4 linked regions of the Homo sapiens genome follow. The protein of the gene in region 4 interacts with the protein of the main gene of each other region in a pairwise test. Each region holds a gene or a part of one and is shown on either strand. Other genes may lie near its edges.

What was found.
Region 1: the proteins of TMPRSS2 (region 4) and PTTG1IP interact in binary tests that used the Homo sapiens proteins (3 or more experiments, as listed by UniProt).
Region 2: the proteins of TMPRSS2 (region 4) and BNIP2 interact in binary tests that used the Homo sapiens proteins (3 or more experiments, as listed by UniProt).
Region 3: the proteins of TMPRSS2 (region 4) and NINJ2 interact in binary tests that used the Homo sapiens proteins (3 or more experiments, as listed by UniProt).

Annotation. Positions count from the first base shown.
Region 1 is NC_000021.9:44,849,681-44,856,708, forward strand, and holds part of PTTG1IP (pituitary tumor-transforming gene 1 protein-interacting protein isoform 1 precursor), read right to left. Parts: intron 6,685-7,028; coding exon 6,513-6,684; intron 5,577-6,512; coding exon 5,530-5,576; intron 1,948-5,529; coding exon 1,901-1,947; coding exon of another isoform or gene 1,687-1,900; 3' UTR 1-1,686. UniProt on the Homo sapiens protein: May facilitate PTTG1 nuclear translocation.
Region 2 is NC_000015.10:59,679,294-59,686,321, forward strand, and holds part of BNIP2 (BCL2/adenovirus E1B 19 kDa protein-interacting protein 2), read right to left. Parts: intron 3,222-7,028; 5' UTR 3,165-3,221; coding exon 3,115-3,164; intron 1,016-3,114; coding exon 948-1,015; intron 476-947; coding exon 299-475; intron 1-298.
Region 3 is NC_000012.12:653,443-660,470, reverse strand, and holds part of NINJ2 (ninjurin-2), read left to right. Parts: intron 1-7,028. UniProt on the Homo sapiens protein: Its role in unclear. In contrast to NINJ1 paralog, does not mediate plasma membrane rupture (cytolysis) downstream of necroptotic and pyroptotic programmed cell death.
Region 4 is NC_000021.9:41,463,783-41,470,164, forward strand, and holds the end of TMPRSS2 (transmembrane protease serine 2), read right to left. Parts: intron 4,757-6,382; coding exon 4,614-4,756; intron 4,105-4,613; coding exon 3,952-4,104; intron 2,372-3,951; coding exon 2,360-2,371; coding exon of another isoform or gene 2,338-2,359; 3' UTR 523-2,337; downstream 1-522. UniProt on the Homo sapiens protein: Plasma membrane-anchored serine protease that cleaves at arginine residues. Participates in proteolytic cascades of relevance for the normal physiologic function of the prostate.

The sequences.
Region 1 (7,028 bases), 3.4 Mb from region 4:
GGCTGCTCTTAGTGTATTTCAGAAAAAAGCAGATGGACGAAGACCGACCTTACAGACGTGGGTTTCTACACTGAGCGCAAGGGCTGACTACGCTGTATTTCACAACCGAGCCCTAGCGCCAGCTCAGCACCCTACGCTCAGGAAGCGGATTTTGCACACACACTACTGCATTCATACAGAGTTCACTGAAGTCTATTACCAAGTGTCTTTTATGAATAAACAATACAAAGTCCAATTTTGATGGCTGCTATAAAATACTTAGGAATCTCTGCAATACTTTACTACAAATACAAATGCCCAAGAGGTCAGGGAAATCAGCCTGAAGAACTGGGTACAGGTTCTATTCTTTGTGGAAATTTCAGCCTAGGAATGTTATTCCCGGTACAGATGTACACAGTCAAAAAGGCTTATCGAGCTGTTTGACGAGTTCTTGAAGTGTTCTGGATCAGTGATCTGCCTGTGAACTTTAGTTCACGCTGAAGACAGTCTTCTCAGTTTTCATGACTGTGAAGTGTGAAAATGGAACGCATCCTTGATCTTAGGTGCTGCTGACCTACTTTCCCAAAGCAAAATGTTTTAAAATTCAAGGCAATCTGGAACAGGGACTATTTCCAAACTTCCTTAGGCAGCACTTTTCAGTGACTTCCCCGCACGCTGCTTTCCCTGCCACGAAGCGCTTGGTCTGCTTACTAAAGCCACGTATCCTGATTTTACAGAAACGTGGGCAGGTCCAGCAGTGCCACTGGAGAGCTCCCAGAGAAGCCCACTCAGAAGGAAGTGGTCAGACCACCCTCGAGCCAGAGCGGCTGGAAGCTGGACTGGTCCCATGAGGCAGAAGGAGCACCAGCGCCTGCTGGGTGGTGTGGGGAGAGCCCTCAGCTGACTCTGGACACACCTGCTTCCGGGGCACGTGGCCCAGAGCCGGGCCTGTGGACGGGCCTTTCTTTCTTCTTGGGGTGGACCCCGTCCCCACGATCCCTAAATGGCCACCCCCCAGACAGCCCAACAGGCAGCGAGAGGCCTGCAGGCACTGAGGATGCCAACAGGGCTGGAGAGAGCTGCAGCGTCCTGCCCCGTCCTCCCCACACCGCTGGCACACGAGCAGTCAACTGGTGCTGCTGAGGCAGGCCAAACACCACATTTATAATTCAAGCTTCCAAGGGAAAAAGATTCTCATGTTCTAGTAAAGATACAAATTTTAAAAATTGTCCAAAAAGGGCCTGAATTTTTATATGAAGGTTTTCTGGTGAAATCTTTTAAGCAGGGAGGAAAATCCAATAAATTTTTTTAAAAAGGTTTAGCTATTCCCCAATGCTATTTAATACAATTGAGGTTAGGACGTTAAGTCCTTATCAGACTGTGTACTGGAGCCCCGTGTCATCAGCAAAAGCCGTGTGAGTCAACAGGTGTGAAGACTCAAGATGCGCACACAGACGCTGTCCGTGGTTTTATGGGGAATGATGAGGGCTGGTCAGTTCTCCTCATGACAAAAGTCAAACCGACTTCCCTGTGTTGCGTGTGAAGCTTGTTAGTGGACAGAGAGAAACGCAGGGTTCTGCCCTGGGAGAATGACAGCCACAGCGCTGGGTGCCGTCAGGCGGCTTCGTGTGCAGTTAGCGTTTCACAAACTGAGAAGAGTATAAAAAAGCCCAAACCCCAAAGATTTCTTATTTCAAGTGACTAAATCTAGAAACAGAGATGAACAGGGAATAGAAGGTCACCAGTCTGCAAGACGAGAGGACTGTCCTTCAGGGGCAGCTCTCCGGCCGCCTGTCCTGGAAGGCTGGCAGGTTCACTGGCCAAGGTCAGGAGACCGCAATGGCCACGTGGTCTCCCGGCTGGGCTGGGCTGCGGAGCGTGCACCTCACAGGAAGCGTCGGGACTGATGTGCTGGAGCGCTTTAGTTGTTTTCAAATCTAGCATACGGGTTTTCTTCTTTAAACAGGCCTGAAACAAAATAAACTTGAATCATAACTTCATTCATTCAACCAGAAACAAAATCTTAGAAAGCCATACAAACCAAGCTTTATAAGAAGATTTACTGAGGCTATAGCAACAACGGGCATTGTAAGCAGGCTCTCATACAGTGCTTAACCTTTTTTGAAGTCAAACCACTTTAAACTTTAAAACTGAAATAAAATTTACTAGAAACAAGAACTCTAACAGATCCTAAGAGATAAGCACTTACTTCCTGATGCTCGGCGAAGAAAAGAAATTTAAGGCAAGTATTTCTTTCCACAGTGGTTGGCTAGTTCCACAGTGGATGGCTACTATTAAACAAAATAACCTTACTTTGTGCTTATAGCTGCTCTTAAACCTTTGGAATTAAGGCTACAGAAAGAACTAAGATGACCATCAATCTAACTCTCGAGTACTCTGACAAAACTGGGATAAAATGTGTATTTAATCATAAGAGTAAACCTGTGCTACTTACCCAAAGACCAGGAGTTTTCCCTTCACACTGCAGAAACACACACACATACACACACTCTCTCTCCCTTTATTTTTTATTTTTTTTTGAGACAGAGTTTTGCTCTTGTTGCCCAGGATAGAGTGCAATGGCGCAGTCTCGGCTCACTGCAATCTCCGCCTCCTGGGTTCAAGGAATTCTCCTGCCTCAGCCTCCGGGTAGCTAGGACTGCAGGCACCCACCACCATACTTGGCTAATTTTTGTATTTTTAGTAGAGACGGGGTTTCACCATGTTGGTCAGGCTGGTCTCGAACTCCCAACCTCAGGTGATCCACCACCTTGGTCTCCCAAAGTGTTGGGATTACAGGCGTGAGCCACCGTGCCTGGCCTCTCTCTCCCTTTAACAATCTGTATTGTACACTAAAATTATCTGCAGCGATTACAACAAAGCTACTCACTGCATGTATTCTGGGGGCTGGGTGGAAGAGGCGGCGGGGAAGCAGAGGGATGGTAAGGAAGGGCCTAGCCATGTTTCTTTCTTGCCTGTCAAGGAGGGCCACAGGCATCAGGCTTTGGGAGTGAGGCTCAAAGTCGGTTTTGGGAAAGAGTCATCAGATACTAGCAAGGAGGCTGGTTAAGTTCTTATTGAAAAACTCGCTCCTGAGTCTACTTCCAGTTTAGAGGGAAAACCAAAACCAAAAGAAGGGTTTTTGCGTGCGTGCTGGTATTTTATATAACTGCACCAGGTGGACTCACATGCTTTCTCGCACTCTCCCATCAGGAATTCCTAGGAATTCTTCTAACTAGCCGAGGCTTTCCAAAGCACAGGCCATTCAATGGCTTTATTACAAACTGGCACAAAAAGCTCATTTCATCAATGCAATTAAAGGGCCAAATTAACCACCAAAATGGCAAGTGCAAGTCAATCAGGGCCCTGACACAGAAGACACCACTCCAAGAGCCTGGCCGGCCACCCACAGCCTCACACCCGCTGGGAGTCAGGGCACAGTAAAGGTCGAGCAACTTAAACACAGCTTGTGCTTGGTGATAACAGGTGCTGGGCAGTGTGTGCGTGTGTGCGCGTGTGCGTGTGTGTGTATCCACCTTGTCTTTTATTTACATTAACATTAGTCTGGCTGGGTGTGGTGGCTCATGCCTATAATCCCAGCACTCTGGGAGGCCGAGGCGGGCGGATCACGAGGTCAGGAGATTGAGACCATCCTGGCTAACACAGTGAAACCCCATCTCTACTAAAAAATACAAAAAATTAGCTGGGCGTAGTGGTGGGCACCTGTAGTCCCAGCTACTCAGGAGGCTGAGGCAGAAGAATGGTGTGAACCTGGGAGGCAGAGCTTGCAGTGAGCTGACATCGCGCCACTGCACTCCAGCCTGGGCGACAAGGTGAGACTCCGTCTCAAAAAAAAAAAAAAAAAAAAATTAGGTGCCAAAAAGCTCTTGACTCTTCCATTTCAAGGAAAGCACAATGCCTCCAGCCAAGGCCTGCAGAGATGCTGCTGGGCCCACGCTCCACGTACACAGGCATGCACTCGCTGAGGAGGGCAACCCTGGTGCTGCTCCTTATGACAGTCACACGCAGGTACCCGGTCACCACCCACTCCAGACACACACCGGGAAACAACAGGCGACAGAGAGGGTGGGGCAAGGACAAGGCAGCAGTGAAGAGAACCCAGAGAGTCAGCGCCCAAGCACACGGCACTCAGGAGACTGATGGGCGGGAACACATAGGAAAAAGCCTCTATCAGCCACTGGGCATCTCGAGGCCAGCAGCCAAGGCAGCCTCACGCCCCCAAGCCGACACTTCGAGACCGGCAGGACTCACGTGGCCTCAGGTCACAGCACAGTCACATGGAGGTGACTTTCCAAGGAGGCCAGAACTGACAGGGAGGGGACGTCCCGGCCAGTGGGCAGAGCCACCCAGCGTTTACAGTCCAGGGCACCAGCAGCATGGGGCCTCTGCAGCCCCCATGAGAGGGAACCCAACGCCAATCACCTGCACCTGACGGAGGCGCCGCTCACAGTGGCTGCTGGGCTTTGCCGTCCACCCCCCACCCGATGACCGAGAACCGCAGCGACGTCCTCATGCCCCCAGTGGGTGGGACCCTAAAATACCACAAATATATGATATTCCCTAAAACAAACAGAAGACTCAAAACACGTGCATTAGTCAGAAAAGGCTCTGAAATTTTCCAATTAGGTTTAGCCTTTAATATACTGCTTCAAGGAAAGCACCGTGGGCGCAGGACGACAGATTCCTGAGGCCCACGGCTGCCATGAACCCAGGACCACGCACCTCGCACAGGCGAGGAGTCAGTTCCCACCATGTCCATGACGCCACACAACCACAAACCCAGCGCGGGAGACGCCCATGACACCACACAACCACAAACCCAGCGCGGGAGACACTAGACTCTTTGCGGACTTTAAAATCATACAGAATCAACGAAGCACGGCTGGGTGGTGGTGTTCAGTGTTAAGCAGTGAACATCACGTGGTTTGGGGGAGTATAGATAACGTAATGTGTATTTCCAATTCACTCCAACTAAATAAAAGGTTTACACTTGGCAAATACATTCATTCTGGCTCCTTCAAAGCTCCTCTCCAAAATCTCTCCAGACACAACCAAACAAGAACAGAACGCCGAGGCTGGGCGAGAAGGAGCAGGGCCGGTGCTGGGGAGTGCTTGGAAGGAGCGCCTGCCACACTCAGAAGATGGCAACGAGCAACGCTCCCGAGGATGAGAGGGCCGCCCTGAAACTCACAGCACCTCGGCTACGCAGGCGTGCCCACAGGAAGCCAAACACGACGGCAGAACAGCTGCAGACTTCCAGCCCAGAAGTCTTGGGACTCGATAAGCAAACAGCTATCTGAGAAAACAGACTTCATGAAGACGACTGGCTGAGATAAAGATATTCTTAGGAGTGAGTTCACCACAGAACCGCTGGGGACAACCGCCAGCTGCTCCTCTCTGGAGAGACGTCCTTCTGTTCCGATGGGTGAACCCACAGCCCCATCTCAGGCCACACTGGCACTAACGAGGACCGAGACAGCGTGCCATCGCCTCCCAACCAGACAAAAAGGAGGCGTGACCAGTCCTTACCATATTTTTTTCTGATTTCATCATGTCTTGTCTTCATCTCTGCTCTCCTAAAACACAGAGGAACATTATGAGCACCAAACGACAGCGCACGGTGGTGTAACTGCTAGACACGCCCTTCCGTGTCCCTCAGTGGGGGCGCCAGGTTTCTTCTGGTGGCTTCCCTCCAGTTCCCAGAGTGAAACCAGGGTGAGGACAAGCTTGGTCATCAGGCCACATACCCACCAGGACAGGCAAGGTGACAACGAACCCAGTCTTCAAAGGCCGTTCCAATGTATTACTCTACTCTTTTCAATAAAAGCAATTCAAATGCCCAATACCGTGATTTTTAAAAAGCTTTTTTCATACAAAGAAAACACAGTAAAAATCATACACCAGGTTCTGAAGATGGTGAGGAAAATGCGATTGTCAGCTTTTACTTAGTAGCATGTGACTTCAAGGTGACTACATGGAAAATCTGTCCCGCTTCCACCCTCGCCCGCCGCCAACCTGACAGTTGGCCCCTCAGGTCCTCTCCTTTGCCAGGTGTGGATTACACCACCTCCTCCTGGGGTTGCCCCAGAGCCCCAGCAAGCACTCAGGAGAGTGCTGTGTCACCAGGGAAAGGGCGACAGGAGAGCTGACCCAGCCACAGTCAGACGCTGTCCCCTCTGAGCCTCAGCTTGCTCTTGGCAAATGCTGGGCCTGGACGAGCCGCCTTAGCAGCCGTCACACACCCGTGTCACCGCGCACAGACTCAGCCTTACTGCACCGATGGGAGGACACCGGGCGAGGAAGCCTATAGAAGCAAGGTTCGCAGCCACTGCTAGGTTCCCATCACAGTCTCTCGCTCTCTACCACGACCTAGAAGATCCCCTGGGCACTATACACATTCTTAATTTCTAAAAACTGAGGAAAACTCAGGATGTATCCATGTGATTTCCATGGCCTTGCAGATCTGAATCCCCTCGAAGTAACCTTCCCAGCGGGCATCACCACCACCTCACCGTTCCTCCTGCCGTATCCGCCTCTCCTCCCGCTCACGCATGGCCTTCTCCTCACTCCTGTCCGGCTTCCGGCTCCTCTTCCTCCTGCAGCAGCAGCAGCAGCAGATGGCAATGCCCAGGAGGAGGGTTCCCCCGACTACCGACATGGTGATGATCAGCGCCTCAAAGTTCACTGGAGATTCAAGCACCTGGAGTTAGGGCCGCCCCAGACACAGAACCCACCCAGCACAGCAGCCTTCCCTCGCCCCTGGGGAACAACCTCAGGACACAGGAGCATAAGGAGGAAAGCCGCCTCGGCCAGGCTGCTGGCTCCTGGCGTGTGGAGAGCCTGTGGCCCTGCCTCCACCCCACAGGGTCCCGCCCTCTCCAAGTCTCCTTTCAGCCACACGTTCCTATCTGTGACTTAGAATTTATTAACAATTTATAATATTAACCATAATGAACTGAAGTGACAGGGTAGTCTGTCTCAGCTGAGTTTGAAAAGGTATTTCAAGCCTGAGAAAAGTTAACTAACCA
Region 2 (7,028 bases), on a different chromosome or scaffold from region 4:
AACTATATGTCTCTTCAAAAGTTTCTTACTTGATTGACTAAAAAAGAGCATGCCATAATTATCAAGAAATATTTTTGAAACAGCTATGAAAAAAACATGAGAGCAGTGGGCAAATAAGAGGGGAAAAAAGCCACTGGTGTACTCTATACACACTTTTTAAGTCCTTGAGAATATTCAAGGGTTAGCACAATTTCCTATCTTAGTAACAAATATATGAACTTTAGAAAGAATGATGTATTTCAAACAAAATCCCTTAGTACATTAATAAAGATCAGATTAAAAACAGTGAAACATTTACCTTCCCACTCAAACTCATTACTATTCTCTGACGGTGTGTCTAAGCCATCTAAGTCAATCTCCCCACTTTCATCCAAATCATCTGACAATACAGAGCCATCACTAGGATCCAGTGTCAGGCTAATGTCTGGAGCCATTAGTTTCTTTCTCACTTTATTTCCATTAACTTCTAGTGAGCCTGGAATTGGAAAATAAAGAAAAAGATACGTAACAAGGAATGCTTAGATGCTAAAGTTGAATAAGAAAAATTTTAACTACCCCATTCTTGGGAAAAAATAATATTAATTGAACATAATTTCAAAGCACCTATTCACAAAATTTTTATTCTGATCATTATTGCTTCTACATCGTTGGCAAGAGATCAATAAAGTATCAATGTCTTTTAAATAGAGGCAGACCTTATAGATACCTCTTACCACTAAAAATGATCTCCTCCACCCCTTTACTGTAAAACTTTCCAAAAACCAAGTGTATGTTTTTGGAATTTTTTTTAAAGCATTCTAAAAATGCTTTCCTCAATGTTCAACTTATACTTTGACTTCTATGATGGAATAAAAACTCAAGTTTTTTTTTTTTTTGGACAAAGAAACGTGTTTTAAAAAATAACACAAAGTCCATAATTTCAATGAAAGTAAGTGTCAAGCTCTTACCAGGCTGGTCCTCTGGTCCAGTTATAGCTAGTATATCTGCTTCAATACTATCATCTTCTGGTAAAGGTCTAGAAGACACAGGCATACTTTTTAATCCAGAAATTAAGAAAGAATTTTTTTTTGAAGTTCAATCTATTAAACATACAGCTTATAGAAATAATTATTTGGAAAATGGAATAAAGCAGTGTTGTTGTTTTTGAGACAGGGTCTTGCTGTCTGTCACCTAGGCTGGAATACAATGGCACAATCATGGCTCACTGCAGCCTTAACTCCTGGGCTCAAGAGATCCTCCCGAGTATCTAAGACTACAGGTGCGTGCCACGACGCTTGGCTAATTTTTAGTAGAGACAGGGTCTTGCTATGTTACCCAGGCTGGCCTTGAACTTTTGGGCTCAAACGATTCTCGTGCATTGACCTCCCTAAGTGTTGGGATTACAGGCATGAGCCACTGTGCCCAGCCTAGCAGTGTTTAAGATAAAGTCTCAGCCTTCTGAGTAGCTAGGACTACAGTGGCACACCAACATGCCCAGCTAATTTTAAAAGTTTTTTTGGTAGAGACCGGATATTGCTATGTTGCCCAGGCTGGTCTCAAGCAATCCTTCTGCCTCGGCCTCCCAAAGCACTAGGATTATAGGCGTGACGTGCTATGCCTGGCTACACTTTCAAAGTAAAAATTCTGACTGTCAGAGCTGACTTATACACTTATTATATATAAGTAACACATAAAAGTAGATATAAATTCCTTATGCAACAGCTCTTATACAATTATAAAACATGTAACAATTTTAAACAAATATGACTGAAATGCACAAATATAATGTGATGTATGATGCAATGTATGAAGCTCAATTTTTACTCACGAGACTACAGTAACAATGGTTCAATTCTTCTGAGATCAGCATTCCTATATTTACTATCACCACCATATGCAACAGTGACTCAGGTCTCCGATCAGCTGTCCAACTGCTAAGCTATCCAACTGCTAAGGCACCTGATTATGCACTAGGATGTCTTCTGACAAGTACGGCACGGAAGCACTATTTAAACTTAAGGTCTGCCTTTGCTCTCTTTTTCATTAGCCTACCTGGTGCCAATATAATTGTAAATACAAATGCAAACATGTCAAGGTGGCTGGCCAGATAAGCTAGAAAATCCTTATTAATTTACTTAGTAAGGTTTTTTTTTTTTTGGTGGGGGGGAACCCACAAATTTTTTTTTTTTTTTTTGAGATAGAGCCTTGCTCGGTCGCCCAAGCTGGAGTGCAGCAGCGCGACCTTGGCTCACGGCAACCCCTGCCTCCTGGGTTCAGGTGATTCTTGTGCCTCTGCCTCCTAAGCAGCTGGGACTACAGGCGAGCGCCAAGCCTGGCTAATTTTTTGTATTTTTAGTAGAGACGGGGTTTCACCATGTTGGCCACGTTGGTCTCAAACTCCTGGCCTCAAGTGATCTGCCTATCTCGGCCTCCCAAAGTGCTGGGGTTACAGGCGTGAGCCACCGCACCTGGCCACAAAATTAAAGAAACATTTTAAAGACAACTAAAGACCTCCTTCTCTGAGGAATCCCTCAGATCTTGTTTAAATGAAAACAAAAACAAAACAAAACAAACAAACCACACTAAAACACTTTATTATAAAAGCAAAAATTTGCAAACTTAAGTGACCAAAACAAAAATGAAAGATTATAGAAGATTATATATATACTTGGTTGGAAAGTAAGATACAAGAGAATCAATCTAACTGTTCCGAAGAAACTTTACTTCCTAGTATCAAATGATCGCCTTGTATTACTGAGTTTCTCAGTGACATCTCAGCTGTGCAGTGGCTCACACCTGTAATCCCAGCACTTTGGGAGGCCAAGGCAGGCAGATCACGAGGTCAGGAGTTTGAGACCAGCCTGGCCAATATGGTGAAACACCGTCTCTATTAAAAATACAAAAATTAGCCAGGCGTGGTGGCGCACACCTATAGTCCCAGCTACCTGGGAGGTGGAGGCAGAAGAATTGCTTGAATCCAGGAGGCGGAGGTTGCAGTGAGCTGAGATCGCGCCACTGCACTCCAGCCTGGGCAACAGAGCAAGACTCCGTCTCAAAAAAAAAAAAAGTAACATCTCGATAAAGAAATTTTGAACTTTTGCTCTAAAATTGTTTTCTTTTAAAAGCATTGCTCACATCGGAAAATCTTCATCTTGCCATTCTTCTTTAAGTTCCACACCTTCCATCCTCAGCCTGGATTCAATGTCAACTACAAACTCTTGATAATCCAGGGAGCCAATGTCCTATGAAGAGAGAAAAATGTATAACTTAATTTCCACTTTACTTTTTATCCACTGAAAAGGCGTAATAATCTTATATATTAGTTCATACTTGATGTTTAGTACAATGGTCTGGTCATGAAATTCATTTACAGGGTTGCAATTTTTTTTTTTTTTTAAAGAAAAGAGAATACTCAGACTACATATATTCTGGGAAAGTTAAATACTGTTTATAGTAAGGATACTGTTCAGTGAAAATACTTGTTTTCAGTTGCATGTATAGTATCTCAGGTTATGATTGAAAATATATTTCATACTATGGATTATATTAAAAAATTTGAAGTGGGGTAAGAAATAAAAATGTTCTTTATTACAGACTCATAATTAAATTTTCTGTCCCTTGGATAGAGGTTGATTCTAGACCGTAAATAATAGTAAATCAATAATATTTAAACTCATGATTCAGCAGAGTCAGGTGGTGTGCTGTCTTTCATATTTCCTTCTCAATAGTTTGATGCCACAATTCCTGAGCCACTTAAAGAAGTCTATTCAATAACTTGTCCCGTAAATGAATTATGCAATCTTTTGATTTGTTTCATATCTATACTATGCCCTTCTCATATAGCTCGGCATATGTTTTCAAACACTGAACTTGGTGAATGCCCTTTTATGCAACTACGTATTTTAACATATGCCATGAACTTTAGTTTTAGTTTTTCCAAGGAATCACGTGAGTCCAATATCCTCATTTTAAAAGTAAGAAATCTAGAGATACTCCCTCTGGTGATGGAGTAAGAAATAGAAGTTGAGGTAAGGTAAAGATCAACTGGTTAACAATGCAACAAAACAGTGAAAACTATAGAAGGAAAGAGGTATACACGAGTATTTAGTTCATTTACATTCAAGTCAATAGATGTCTAAAGTTATTCAACAAACAGCAGTAACATATTTCTGTTCTTTTCTTTTCTTTTTGCAGTAACATATTTAAGAGATACGGAGCATCACTAGCAGTACTAAAAATAAAGTTAAAAGTCGTTGACACTAGGCCGGGCGCGGTGGCTCACGCCTGTAATCCTAGCACTTTGGGAGGCCGAGGTGGGCGGATCACTTGAGGTCAGGAGTTCAAAACCAGCCTGGCCAACACGGTGAAACCCAGTCTCTACTAAAAATACAAAAACATTAGCCGGATGTGGTGGCAGGCGCCTGTAATCCCAGCTACTTGGGAGGCTGAGGCAGGAGAATCGCTTGAACCTGGGAGGTGGAGGTTGCAGCGAGCCGAGGTCACACCATTGCACTCCAGTCTGGGTGACAGAGCAAAACCAGTAGCAGAGGAAAGAGGGTGAAATGCAGAAAATGACTAATGCTTTTCATAGTAAGTCCGTCTATACCATTTGATTTTTAAAACAATACTATCTGTGACTTTAAAAGATATTTATTAAATAAAATCAATTATGTCAGCCATTCACATCAACCAGTCTTCTAAAAGAAAAATGTGGTCATGTCCTATAGCTATCTTATCTGCTACGTCAACATTCAAAAGATGCACAAAGTTACAAAGAAAAAAGCCTTATGTTCCGTAATGACAAAATTACAATGGAAATATCCTGAAGTGTTAGATTTCACAAGGTAAACTAAATTTGTATCTCTGCCAAGGCTGGAAGACTCTCTTCCCAGTTTGAATTTTTACTTACCCTCAAGAGAAGGTTTTAAACATTCCCAAAAGGTTTCAATGTTTGATGATACACTTGTTACCACAGAAAAAAAATGGTAGATGCTGACTTTTCCACACCAACTTATTTGCTTGAAAAAGTCATTTACATATAGGAGTAAGGTTTTTAATTCTCTGGGAAAACAATGATCTAGGCAGTTTTTATAAGTTAATGAAAAACATTTAAAATAATCTTTACTTATTTAGCACTTTCTCTGTTGGGAGGGAAAAATAAACAAAAAGAGGGACACCTACCTTACCAAACAATCCCCTCTGTTTAGAACAGAAATAGTAGAAAGGAGCCCACAATTACAATCAACAAGCCCAAATGGTGAAAATACTTACTACTCTAGAATTACAATGCTCAAGTGAGACCAAAGCATGCTATGACTAAAGGCTGAAAACTGGTAAGTCTTTTCTAGATGTTTAATTTACTGTATTTCCCAATGTTTAACTTTTCTTAAGTCTTTGGTACTCACTCTAAAGCGAATGATGTATTTTCCTAAATTCAATAATCAGAAAAGCTTTCTATTATCTTGTCGTACCTTTTTATTGTGTGTTGAAAAACACACCAGGATGTTGTCTGGGTGTCTTTTTCAAATATCTCAAATACTCAGAAAAATATTTAGCATTTCAAAAATAAAAGCAGAAACTGAAAGTTGTACCCAATATATTCCCAACACCTACCATGGTGCCTAGCACATAACAGGCCTATAAAAATTAAGTAAATAATACTTACCTGTAGGGTATGGACACTGGTCAGCAAACCTTTGCTCAATCTCTTAGGCTTATTTTGCTTATTAAACTACATGAATAGGATTTGTCATGTGTTACCCCATAAAAATGTAACAAAAATATTCTGTGGGAAACTACACACCAGCAATATTAATTTCTATTTGTAAAATTGTTCCTCACTGGTAAGAGGAAAGGTTTATCTTGGGAAATTCTAGAAGACAATCCATTCCTTTCAGCTGCTTAACCAATGGAACAAGTTTGTCTCTGTGAAAACAGCTCCTTGAGGCCGGACGTGGTGGCTCACACCTGTAATCCCAGCACTTTGGGAGGCTGAGGTGGGCGGATCACCTGAGGTCAGGAGTTTGAGACCAGCCTGACCAAGATGGTGATACCCCGTTTCCACAAAAAATACAAAAAATCAGCCAGGCGTGGTGGCGCCTGCCTGTAATCCCAGCTACTATGGAGGCTAAGGCAGGAGAATCGCTGGAACCCCAGAGGTGAAGGTTGCAGTGAGCTGAGATTGCACCACTGCACTACAGCCTGGGTGACAAAGGGAGACTCTGTCTCAAAAAACAAAACAAAACAAACAACAACAAAAACTAAATAGCTCCTCGAAACACAGGCAGCCCAAGTCTTTCAGCTATCTCAGCCTATTTATTCCATTTTTACCTTAATATCATATTGAATCATGTGTTAATACCTCAGCACATAGACATGGATATTTAGTTTGAGGATAATCAATTATCTAGTTAAACAGAACTTGGGGAGAGAGATATAGATAGATTTACTCTACCATTTCATCATGAATTTTAGGGGAAAAGTACACTAGGTAGATCAAAACAATTTAAACAATTGAGGGAGTACTGTTTCTTGGAAGCACTTTATCATCAAACAGCTGTTAAGAACAGGAAACAAACAAGAAAGGAGTTAATATAACCACAACCTCTTCGAAGAAAATCAGGATACTGCTGACTCACAAGTTAACTGTTGTTGCTTCCCATTTCTTGTTCATGTATTTTTTTTTGGAAATTAGAATGGGAAATAACACTTTAAGATGATATTTGTTAAAATAACCTGTTGGCACAGGAATAACTTGATTTCTCAATAGATTGACTCTTGGTAGTGGTGGCACATCCTTATGCCACTTACTTGTTGCAGTCATAAAGATAAATTCAAAACAGTTGTTGACCTTAGGTTAAAAATCAAAGAGATAATTGATTCCTTCTGACATAGCTTCAAGGGGGAGGAGTACTGGTAAATCCAACCAGGATGAAGCAGCTTTCCCCAGGCAGTTTAGCAACATAAGCAAAAATTAAATGTTAAGATCACATTTAGGCCAGGCTCAGTGGCTCACTCCTGTAATCCTAACACCTTTGGAGGACAAGGTG
Region 3 (7,028 bases), on a different chromosome or scaffold from region 4:
TACTCAGGAGGCTGAGGCAGGAGAGTTGCTTGAACCTGGGAGGCAGAGGTTGTGGTGAGCGGAGATCGTGCCACTGCACTTTTGAGACTCTGTCTCAAAAAAAAAAAAAAGAAAAGAAAAAAGAAAGAAAGCATAACAACTTATCAGACCTGTGATTCCTTTTTTTTTTTTTTTTTTTTTTAACAGACAGGATCTTGCTGTGTCACACAGGCAGGAGTGCAGTGGTGCAATCTTGGCTCACTGCAGCCTTAACCTCCTGGGCCCAAGTTATCCTCCTGCCTCAGCCTCCTAAATAGCTGGGACCACACATGTGCACTACCATGCCCAGCTAATTTTTTTTTTCTTTTTTTAGTGATTGGGGTCTCACTGTATTGCCCAGGCTGGTCTCTAACTGCTGGTCTCAAGTGATCTTCCTGTCTTGGCCTCCCAAAGTGTTGGGATTACAGGCATGAGCCACATGTCCAGGCAATTCCAACATTTTTATTGCTTAGGATGAGCCTCAAGTAAGTGGCAGGAAGTTTTTTGACACCTTTATACAGTCCTTGCACATGACCTGGGCATACCCTCAATGTCTTAGTAACTGTTTCTGTCTGACCTGTTCAGAAGTACGGCAGCCCTGGGTGACATGGATCACAGGTGTGTGTGCCCGCACCTACTACTGCACTGAGACGTTGAAACCCTGAACATGGCACAACTGAAGTTTGGGAAACTCTAATCTAAAATAACATTAACTTGAGCCTCTATAATCAATGTTGCAAATGTATCTCCAGGTCAAGACCTGTGAGACTGGGATGGGTAGCAGCAGCACAGCTGGCTGTGAAGAGTGGCGCACAGCACTCAGGGCAGGTGGCCTCCACCAGCTGGATGCCTGGAGCTGCTCCTTCTGTTCTATGGCCTGTGGCTGTGGCCTCCAAGCCTCTGCCCTTCTCCCTGCCTTCACTGGTAGCCCTGCCAGGGAGCTAAGCCTGCGCATCTCCCAGAGTCTGGATGTGTGAAAGGTTGAGGATAATCCCTTTCTTCCCCTTCGAGCCAGTGTTGCAACCCTACCCCCAAGTACAGAGTTTAAGCCCCTAGCCTGGCTCCTTCCCAAAATGCAGCTCCTCTTGGGCTTCCAGATTCCCCAGGCAGATCCAGTTATTGGCCCCTTTTTTTCCACCTGTGCTGCATGTTGATGGAAATGTGAAGATGATCTGCCAAAAGAGGAACTAAGACTTGTCCAAACCGAATGCAAATTCAGTATAGCTCAGGTTAAGTAGAGCGAGATACAGATAGAATGAGATGGGAGTGGAGGTAAAAACACTTATGAATAGAAGAAGGTCTATAGGCAAAGTACTCTGGGAGTGTTTTTGTTTGTTTGTTTGTTTTATTGTTTTTAAAGACATATATATATATAAGCAGTTATATATTATATATATATTATATATAATATATAATAGCAGTTATATATAGAGAGAATAGCAACTATATATGTAATAGCAGTTTTAGGTTCATGGCAAAATGGAGAAGGAAGGCCAGAGATCTCCCATATAGCCCCTTGCCCCACATGCATAGACTCCCCATTATCAACTTCCTCCACCAAAATGGTACATTGTTTTTTTACAACCGATGAGCCTTACATTGACACATCATTATGACCCAAAGTCTACAGTTTACATGAGGGTTCACTCTTGGTGTTAAACATTCTATGCGTAATAACATGTTTCCACCGCTATAGCATAGTATAGTATAGCATAGCATAGCATTAGCATAGCATAGCATAGCATAGCATAGCATAGCATAGCATAGCATAGCATAGCATAGCATAGCATAGCATAGCATAGCATAATAGAGAAGTTTCACTGCCCTAAAAATCCTCTGCATTCTGCCTCTTCATTGCTCCTTCCCCTCTGAACCCCTAGCAATGACTGACTTTTTGTTTTGCCTTTTCCAGAGTGTCACATAGCTGGAATCATACAATATGTAGCCTTTTCAGATTGCCTTCTCTCACTCAGTAATGGCACTGAAGTTTCCTCCATCTCTTTTCATGGCTTGATAGCTCATTTCTTTTAAGTACTGAATAATATTCCAGTGTCTGGATGTACTACTGTTTATTTTATTCACCTACCGAAGGACATCTTGGTTGCTTCCAAGTTTTGGCATTACGTATCATTCTGTATAAAGCCACTCAGCTGGGCGCAGTGGCTCACACCTGTAATCCCAGCACTTTGGGAGGCCGAGGTGAGTGGATCACTTGAGGTTAGGAGTTCGAGACCAGCCTGGCTATCGCTAACATGGTGAAACCCCACTTCTACTAAAAATACAAAAATTAGCCAGGCATGGTGGCAGGTGCTTGTAATCCCAGCTACTCGGGAGGCTAAGGCAGGAGAATCGCTTGAACCCGGGAGGCGGAGGTTGCAGCCAGCTGAGATCGCACCACTGCACTCCAGCCTGAGTGACAGAGTGAGACTCTGCCTCAAAAAAAAAAAAAAAAAAAAAAAAAAAAGCCTGTGTAGGTTTTTGTGTAAACACAAATTCTGAATTCATTTGGGAAGATACCAAGGATTGCAATTGCTGGATCATATGGTAAGAGTGTGTTGAGTTTTGGAAGAAACTGCCAAACTGTCTTCCAAAATGGCTATACTGTTTTGCATGTCCACCAGCAATGAATAGGTGTTCCACATTCTCATCAGCATTTGGTATTGTCAGTGTTCTGGATGTTGGCCATTCTAGTAGCTGTGCAGTGATATCCCATTTTTGTTTTAATTTGCATTTCCCTAGTGACATAAGATGTGGAGAATCTTCTCATATGCTTATCTGCTACCTTTGCATCTTCTTTAGTGAGGTGGCTGTTCAGGTTTTTTGCCCATATTTAGTGGGGTTACTTATTTATTTATTTATTTTTTGAGAAGGAGTCTCGCTCTGTCTTCCAGGCTGGAGTGCAGTGGCCCGATCTCAGCTCACCGCAACCTCTGCTTCCCGGGTTCAAGCGATCCTCCTGCCTCAGCCTCCTGAGTAGCTGGGACTACAGGCATGCGCCACCATGCCCCGGCTAATTTTTGTATTTTTAATAGAGGCGGGGTTTCACTATGTTGGCCAGGCTGGTCTCAAACTCCTGACCTTGTGATCCACCCGCCTCAGCCTCCCAAAGTGCTGGGATTACAGGTGTGAGCCACTGCGCCCGGCCTTATTTTCTTGTTGTTGAATTTTAAGATTCTTTGTCTGTTTTGGATAACAACTGTTTATTAGATGCATCTTTTGCAGATATTTTCTCCCAGTCTGTGGCTTGTCTTATTCTGTTGACATTGCCTTTCACAGAGTAGAAGTTTTCAATGTTAATAAAATCCAGTTTATTATTTCTTTCATGGATTGTACCCTTTGGTATTGTATACAAAAAGTTGTAAGCATATTCAAGGTCATCTAGATTTTCTCCTATATTATCATTTATGAGTTTTATAGTTTCGCATTTTACATTTAGGTTTATAGTCCACTTTGAATTAATTCTTGTAGAGGGTGGAAGGTCTGTGCTTAGATTCATATTTTTACACGTGGATGCCCGGTTATTCTGGCACCATTCGTTGAAAAGACTATCTCTGCTACATCGTATTGTCTTTGTTCCTTTATCAAAGATCAGTTGGGTCTATTTCTGGGTTCATTATTCTGTTCCATTGATCTATTTGTCTATTCTTTGTCCAAAACACATTGTCTTAATTATTGTAGCTTTACAGTAATTTTTTTTTTTTTTTGAGACAGAGTCTTGCTCTGTCACCCAGGCTACAGTGCAGTGGCGCAATCTCGGCTCACTGCAACCTCCACCTCCCAAGTTCAAGCGATTCTCCTGCCTCAGCCTCCCGAGTAGCTGGGATTACAGGGGCCCGCCACCACATCTGGCTAATTTTTGTATTTTTAGTAGAGATGGGGTTTCACCATCTTGGCCAGGCTGGTCTCGAACTCCTGAACTTGTGATCCACCAGACCCTACCTCCCAAAGTGCTGGGATTACAGGTGTGAGCCACCATGCCTGGCCGCTTTACAGTAATTCTTCAAGTCGGGTAGTGTCAGTCCTCTGACTTTGTTCTTTTCCTTCAGTATTTTGTCACCTATTTTGGGTTTATTTTATTTTATTTTATTTTTAGACAGAGTCTCACTCTGTCTCCAGGCTGGAGTGCAGTGACGTAATCTTGGCTCACTGCAACCTCCGCCTCCTGGGTTCAAGTGATTCTCCTGCCTCAGCTTCCCAAGTAGCTGGGACAACAGGTGCCCACCACCACGCCCAGCTAATTTTTTGTATTTTTAGTAGAGATGGGGTTTCACCATGTTGGCCAGGATGGTCTCGATCTCTTGACCTCATGATCCACCCACCTCAGCCTCCCGAAGTGCTGGGATTACAGGCGCGAGCCACTACGCCCTGCGGGTCTTTTGCTTCTCTATATAAACTAACTATACAATTAGTTTGTTGATATTCACAACTGATTTTGATTGGGATTGTTTGAATCTATAGTGAGTCCTCTTATCCATAAACATGGAATATCTATCTATCTATTTATTTTATATTTATTTATAAATTTATTTATTTATTTATTAAGATGGAGTCTTGCTCTGTCACCCAGGCTGGAGTACAGTGGCACAATCTCAGCTCACTGCAAACTCCGCTTCCCAGGTTGAAGCAATTCTCCTGCCTCAGCCTCCTGAGTAGCTGGGATTACAGGTGCGTGCCACCATGCCCAGCTAATTTTTGTATTTTTAGTAGTGACAGGGTTTCACCATGTTGACCAGGCTGGTCTCGAACTCCTGACCTCAAGTGATCCACCCGCCTCAGCCTCCCAAAGTGCTGAGATTACAGACGTGAGCCACCGCGCTTGTCCCCTTCATTTATTTAGTTCCTTGATTTATTTAATCAGTTTTGTAGTTTTCCTCATAATAGATATTGTACATATTTTGTTAGATTTATACATAGGCATTTCACTTTTTTAGGTGCTAATGTAAATGGTAGTGTTTTAAGTTTCAGATTCTACTTGTTCAGTGCTGTTTCATAGGAAAGTGATTGCATTTTATGTATTAACCTTGTATCCTGCAACCTTGCTATAATTGCTTATTAGTTCCAGCAGATTTTTGGTCAGTTCATTTAGATTTTCTACATAGACAATCATGTCATCTGCAAACAGAGATAGTTTTATTTCTTCACTCCCAATCTGTAGTCCCTTCATTTCCTTTTTCTGAAGGAACTACATTGCATTTACTAGGACTTCCTAGCAAAGACTGGGAAACTGCTAAGACTTGTTCATACTGAATGCAAATTCAATGTATGAAGCAGTGGTGACAGGAGACATCCTTGCCTGTTTCTAATCTTAGTGGGAGTGCTTCTACTTTCTTATCATTAAGTATGATGTTAGTTATAGGCTTTTTGTAGATATTCTTTATCAAATTGAGGAAATTATCTAGTGTACTGAGAGTTTTTATCATGAATGGGTGTTGAATTTTGCCAAATACTTTTTCTACATCTATTAATATGATCATGTGATTTTTCTTTTTTAGTCAGTTGGTGTGATTAATTACATTAATTGATTTTCTTTTGTTTTTATTTTATTCTCTTTTTTTTTTTTTGAAATGGAGTTTGGATCTTGTTGCCCAGGCTGGAGTGCAATAGTTGATCTCAGTTCACTGCAACCTCCACCTCCCAGGTTCAAGTGATTCCCCTGCCTCAGCCTCCCGAGCAGCTGAGATTACAGGCGGGTGTCACCACGCCCGACTAATTTTGTATTTTTAGTAGAGACAGGTTTCTCCATGTTGGTCAGGCTTGTCTTGAACTCCCAACCTCAGGTGATCCACCCACCTCGGCCTCCCAAAGTGCTAGGGTTAAAGGCGTGAGCCACTGCACCTAGCATTAATTGATTTTCAAATGTTGAACCAGTCCTGCATACCTGGACTAAACCCCAGTTGGTGTGGTGTATAATTCTTTTTTTTTTTTTTTTTTGAGACGGAGTTTCACTCTTGTTGCCTAAGCTGGAGTGCAATGGCATGATCTCGGCTCACCGCAACCTCTGCCTCCCGGGTTCAAGCAATTATCCTGCCTCAAGGTCCGGAGTAGCTGGGATTATACGCATGTGCCACCATGCCCGGCTAATTTTTATATTTTTAGTAGAGACGGGGTTTCTCCATGTTGGTCAGGCTGGTCTCGAACTCCTGACAGGTGATCTGCCCACCTCGGCCTCCCAAAGTGTGGGATTACAGGCGTGAGCCACCGTGCCTGACCCCATCCATTTACTTTTAATCCGTATGTGTCTTTTTTTGTTTGATACAAGGTCTTACTCTATCACCCATCACCCAGGCTGGAGTGCAGTGGCACCATCTTGGCTCACTGCAGCCTGAAATGCCTTGGCACAAGCAATCCTCCCACTTCAGCCTCCCAAGCAGCTAGGACTACAGGCACAAACCACCACACCCAGCTATTTTCTTATTCTTTGTAGAGATGGGGTCTCACTATATTGCCCAGGCTAGTCTTACTCCTGGCTTCAAGTGATTTTCCCATTTCAGCCTCCTAAAGTGCTGGGTTACAGGGGTGAGATACCACACTCAGCTGATCTATATGTATCTTTATGGTTAATGTGAGTTTCTTGTAGACAACATACAGTTGAGTCTTCTTTTTGTGTCCATCCTGACAATTTCTGCCTTTCAATTATGCACTTAGACCATTGACATTCAAAGTGATTACTGATATAGTTGGATCTACCACATTTGTTACTGTTTTTCTATTTGTTACCCTCATTCTTTGCTCCTATTTTTGTCTTCCACTTTTTTTTTTGCCTTTGGTGGTTTTAACTGAGCATTTTATATGTTCCTGTTTTATCTCCATTCATAGTGTATCAGTTGTACTTTTTTTTAACTTTTTTTAGTTATTGCCCTGGAGTTTGCAGTTTACAAGTACAACAAATCCAAGTGCACTTTCAAATAACACTATACCATTTCATGGATCGTGTGAGTACCTTATGATAACAAAACAATCCTAATTCCTCCATCCTGTTCCACGTATCATTGCTGGCATTCATTTTACGC
Region 4 (6,382 bases):
GCCTGTACCCCCGTTGTATCTAGGAAGTAATTAACTTGCTCTTGATTTCACAGGCTCATAGGTGGAAGCAACTTGCCTTGTGTTGGATGAGACTTTGGACTGTAGACTTTTGACTTAATGCTGAAATGAGTTAAGATTTTGGGGGACTGTTGGGAAGACCTGATTGGTTTTGAAATGTAAAGATACGAGATTTGGGGGGTGCAGGGGCAGAATGATATGGTTTGGCTCTGTGTCCCCACCCAAATCTCATCTTGTAGCTCCCATAATTCCCATGTGTTGTGGGAGGGACCTGATAGGAGATAATTGAATCATGGGGGTGGGTCTTTCCTGTGCTGTTTTTGTGATAGTGAATGGGTCTCACAAGATCTGATGGTTTAAAAAATGGGAGTTTCTGTGCACAAACTCTCTCCCTGCCTGCTGCCATCCATGTAAGATGTGATTTGCTCTTCCTTGCTTTCTGCCATGATTGTGAGGCCTCCCCAGCCATGTGGAATTGTAAATCCAATAAACTTCTTTCTTTTGTAAATTGCAGTCTTGGGTATGTCTTTATTAGGAGCATGGAAACAGACTAATAGAATAATAAGAAGGAGTCATTTGAGGGACCTCTCCAACAGGACAGGCTGCAGGAACTGAGGGCACCAACCACAGGAGCACCAAGTCTGGCCTTGCCTCACCTTTGGTCCTCTGACCAGCAGCCTCAACATCACCCCCTTATAAGGAAATGGAGGCTGGTCCTACTCACCAGGCAGAACTTCAAAGATGCAGTAGTTACTTTGAAAAAAAAATTGCATAATTTATTTGCATGATATTCATTTTCACAATTGAACTTTACAGTTTAAAAAAGATACAAAAAAAGACAAACAGTTGTTCACATAAATAAGAAGGGGCAATAAAGAAGGAAGACGTTTTCACCATTACAACACCTTTTAGGATGTGTCTTGGGGAGCAAGCACCTTACAGTGCCAACTGTTTCCAAGGTCCCTGGGAATGCTGCTCTCTACAGAGGCATGTGCACAGACAGATCCTGCAAATGGGATTGCATGACTTTCCATTTCAAGGTTAAGTCCTAGCTGTAGAATCATTCATTTCATTCTTGCAAACCAGCCTGCTTGGCCAGGAGGCAGAACCATGGTAGAGTAGTGCTCATGGTTATGGCACTTGGCAATGCAAAAGGGACCCTTCCCCTGGTTGGAAACCCACAGCATTGGAAGGGACCACAGAGAGTCCAAAACAAAACACATCTTTCTCTTCTTCGCCGCCACCATGGGCACTTTGCTTCAGCACATTCATTTATAGAACGTTAAGTCAGGAGCCAGTCATTTTGTCAAAGCAGCTGAAATAGGCCACCACTCTTACTTGGCAAAGATGATACAGTTTCAAAGAGTTAAATGAAGGTGGACTACTTGGAGACATCAAAAGCTAAGTTTCCAGGAGCACTGAGGTAGCAATGTGTAGAAACATAACATGGAAACAGTGTACCTTAAACTGAGCATCCTTGATTTCCCCCATGGACCTCAATTTCCAGTGACTAGCAGGCCTGAAGAGGCCAACATGGTGCCAGACTTGGCGCCCTGCCAGGACCAAGGGGCATGTGCACTCTCCAGGGTGCTAGGAGCAGGGTCAGGGAGGATGAGGAGGAAGGCTGAGTCTCCCTCCCAGGAGCCCCACCCAATGTGCAGGTGGAGACCTGCACCAGGAGTGCTCAGGGCAAGTTCCTTTTCAATTGCTTCCCTCGCACCAAGGGCACTGTCTATATTCTCACCCCATAAGAACAAAAATGTTTCTGTTCCCCTTACAAGTGACTACCACGTCACCACCCATGAAGGGCTGGTCCCTTTATTTCTGGCCACCATCCAGGGCTGCTAAGGCTCTAAGAACCCATCAGCAAAATCCCCTTGTGGAGAGGTAGGCTGGGGACACTACCAAGTGGCCCCAGAGGGCAGCCGCTGCAGGTGCCACCTGGCTGTCTCCCTTTCCATGTCTCTCCTTTTTCATCTCAAGTCATCCAGCAGCTGAGAGGTGACAGCTCCATGCTCATCCAAAATTGGCCCCTGGAAAGGACTCAGCAGGAAGATCTCAATGGGGCAGCCTCCACCCCTCTCCTCCACACTTGACCGCCAGTGCCCACAACCAGCCGGCCATCACCCCTTGCGGACAAGGGGTTAGGGAGAGCAGGCTGGGCAGGGGAGCCACTGCAGCCTGCACAGAATGGCAGAGAGTGCCAAAGCCAGACAAGTTCACTGTTTAATAAAAATGAAGTGACCTCTGAATCATCTCTAAGAGTAAATCATGCACGGGGAAGCAAAACCAGCCCCATTGTTTTCTTGTAAAACGACGTCAAGGACGAAGACCATGTGGATTAGCCGTCTGCCTGTTCAAATAGGAAAAAAAAAAGTGTGTTATTTTCTTAAGACAAACAAAGGTGGAAAATAATTTTTTCCTCTAGGTTCGCATGAAGCACTTAGAAACCAAATAAGCAAGCTTAATAGCACAAAGGGATCATTCTTCTCTCCAACGTGTTGGTCAGAGTCAGGCTGAGCATGGCGGGGCAGGAGCTCCGGAAGGAGCGGGCAGCGGATGTGGAGGCCGGCACAACAGGCATCTCTTCAGCAGAGTCTGGGCCTCCCCCGGCTGCTCTCCTGCCACGCAGCCCTTCCCTCCCTGCACAGCCATGCGGACCCACCTGCAGCCGCCAAACACACCTGGATCATTTCCTAGCTCCATCCTGGTGCGAGTCCGCCCCTCAGCCTGGCTGACCATCCCAGCCCTGCCAGCTTCCCTCCTGCCCTGCCTCCTCCTCCTGGGGTCATCTGTTTCTAGCACTGGGCCCTGGGCCAGGTGACGCCCCCTGGGCCCCATGGTCATGGGAAGGCCCTGAGTCCCGCGTGTCATTTGAAGGAGACACAGGTCGGGCCTCAGCGGGAAAGGCCCCCTGGTTCTGCTCCTCCTTCAACAGACTGGGCATCTGGGAGATTTGGGAGAAGACAGAATAGACTGCTTTCTTCCACTAGTAGCCCAGCCCCAGAAAGCACAGAAATCTGAGAAAACTATACGTCTGAGGTCCTGGAGATGAGAAGATCTGGTTCTCACCCCCTATCTGGACAATGCCCAAAGCCAGGGCTCTGCTAAGCAGAGACATCCATGAGGCTCACATGGAACCCCTGAGACCTTCCCTCGTGCTTGAGTCTGGGGCATCAGAGAACCCTGGCTGCTCCTGCCCTTCCTAACCTTGGGGGCTGCCCAGGAGCCACTCGATGGCCCCAGAAAAGGATGGGCACAGCCGGCTCTTCCCTCTGCTCTCTATAAATCAAAAGTTTCATGTGAGGCCGGGCACCGTGGTTCACACTTGTAATCCCAGCACTGTGGGAGGCTGAGGTGGGTGAATCACCTGAGGTCAGGGCTTCGAGACCAGCCTGGCCAACATGGAGAAACCCCATCTCTACTAAAAATACAAAAAGTAGCTGGGCGTGGTGGCGCATGCCTGTAGTCCCAGCTACTTGGGAGGCTGAGGCAGGAGAATCACTTGAACCCAGGAGGCAAAGGTTGCAGTGAGTCGAGATTGTGCCACTGCACTCCAGCCTGGGCGACACAGTGAGACTCCATCTCAAAAAAAAAAAAAAAAAGTTTGATGTGAGGTGGCCTGGGTGGAACAGCTGAGTCAGCTGAGCCAGAACGAAGTGTGGTTGGCAGAGCACCAAGGAATTTCACACAAGCTGAGCCCCAGCGCTTTTCATCCAAACACCAGGGGAAATATGCAAGTGAAGCCAGTGAGAGGCAATGGGCAATGGGTGGACACTGGGGGGATGGGGCTGTGGCTGGAGGAAGCAGAGTTTGCTTCATGCTGACCAGTGGTCACCAGTCAGCTTCCAGCAGCAGAACCACGCCTAACAGATGTCTGGCTTTGGCTCGAGGAATCGGAGAACACAGTCAGAAGGAGGACAGGATAGTTACCCTCATTTGTCGATAAATCCAGTCCGTGAATACCATCACATTCCCGTACACTCCTGGTCTGTAAGCTTTGGCACAGCCAGAACCCCAGCTTGTATCCCCTATCAGCCACCAGATATTGTTCTTCGAAGTGACCAGAGGCCCTCCACTGTCACCCTGTGGGACACAGCAAGGTACAGAGAGCAGAAAATCAAGTCACAATCTGCCGCACACCACTGACCAGGCCTAGAGGAGTTGGGGGGCGGGGGTCGCAGTGTGAGTTACGAGTGACTGTGTGGGCTTCGAATCTCCACCATCAAGGGGTGATGGTAACAGAGATGTAACCCCCAAAGAGATAGCCCCCATCCTGAATTTTAATCTGTTCAAGCTAAAAGTTACTAAATAAATTGCCGTTCATAATTTAAAATAGTCTAAATACTTGTTTCTGTTCCACTGGCACTTTTACCAAATACCGGTTTTTCAGAGGGTGTGTGTGATTTGTTGACTGTACTTCCTTCTGCCACCAGAAGCGTTCGCACTGTTTGTGGCCGTCACTTCCCATGACTGCCCCGAGCTGGCTCCGTGTCACTGAGGAGGCTCTGCTGACCCCAAGAATGCCCTCTCTCTCATGGGGGGTTCAGTAGGATCTGGTAAGGACCAAAGGTAGAATAAAAATGTTGAATTACCTGGCAAGAATCGACGTTCCCCTGCAGGAAGCCGGCACAGATCATGGCTGGTGTGATCAGGTTGTCATAGACATATCTGCTGTTGCATCTCTGTGTCTCAATGAGAAGCACCTTGGCAGCGTTCAGCACTTCTGAGGTCTTCCCTAAGGACAGGGAGACTTGTTGAGCTCCCAGTGTTGCCTGCAGCTCTCGCAGGGAGAGCACACTTCCCTCCCTGAGACCTCCACACGCACTACACAGATGGTCACAGCCCTATTTTCCAGCCCTGCCCCGGTCAGCTCATCCCAGCACCAACCCCTCTCCTGGGAAACCTGGATTCTCCTTACAACTGGCGGTGCCTGTGCTGAATGCAGCTCTGGAGTTCAGCTTCAGGGAAAGAAATTCCCAGCTCTGAAACTATAGGGCTCTATCAGTGCCATGGAATCCCCCTCTTATTCACCCAACGGCTTGGTTCTGCTGAACCAATTTCCCACTCCTCACTGAACCCCACCCAGGACACACAGGCGCCTGTTTCCCCTCTGGCATGCACACACTCTTCTGGAGCACACGTGACCCTCCCTAGGCCGCCTGCTTCTCGGCTCCCCTGCACATTAGAGCTTCTCAAGACACGGCCTGCACTTGCCACCTCTGCATTTCCCACTCTCGCTTTGCTGCCTCCCCTCGGGCATCTTCTGGGCACCGTGGGCTTAGTGTGCAAAACCAGAACCCTCCGTCACACCTTCTCCCACCCCAAATTCTCACCAACCAATATTTCCTGGCTTGAAAAATGGCACCACCCGCCACCCTGGGGCTTCAGCCACAGAGTGGAAAGCCATCGTCCCTGACTTCTCACTCTCTCTCCCACAGACATGCAACCCATCAGTAAGTCTGGTGGCTCTAGCCCTAGTGTACCCTCATCTCTTCACATCCACGCCCGCACTCTGCTATGAGCTGGCTTCCTGTCTCAAGGAACCACAGCAATGGACTTGTCACCATCATCCTCGTCTCCATCCATTCATCCCCACTCCCCACGCAGCTGCCAGATCATGGCACTCCCCGGCTCACGATCTCCCCACCTCAAGCAGATGAGAAGCTGGTGTCTTCACCATAATCCACAAGGACCTATGCAATCTGGCCCCAGCCCACCTCCTTGGCCCCTTGACCACACCTGAAGATACATGCACTAGCCTTTTTGATGTGTACACATTTTTGCCATTTGAGTCTCAGCTCAAATGCCACCTCTTCCGAGAAGCCTTTCCTGACCACCCCTTCAAAATAGCCGGGACCTTGTGATCCCCACCCTCAGATGTTTGGAAGTACCTCGCTCAGTTGTTTGTCTCCCATCTGTCTGACCACACCTGCCCCGTCCCCACCACCGACATCCAGAAGAGAGGTAAAGCTCCTGACAGCAGAGACATTTGTCTTACTCTGTTCACTTCTGCATTCCCAGCACCTGAGTAGCACCCAGCCTGTACTAGGTGCAGGTGCGCACAAATATTTGTCGATATTCCCTTCATCTTGGATTCCATGAGGTCTTTTGCCCAGCCTGTGGCTCTACTGTAGTAAGTTTCTGCTGATGAGGAGCCAGGATGCCCCCCACTACCTTCCCTGACGCTCCCCAGAAATCACCCAACCTTTGTACTTTTCCCCTTGTTTGAAAGGATTTGTTGTCTGTATGGCCTAGACGCTTTTGAGAAGGATATAAACAATATGTAAAATGAACCTTTGTGCCTGCCACTAAGCACTTCCAACCCTCCATAAAAATGAAGCAGCCAGGCTCCCTTCATTTG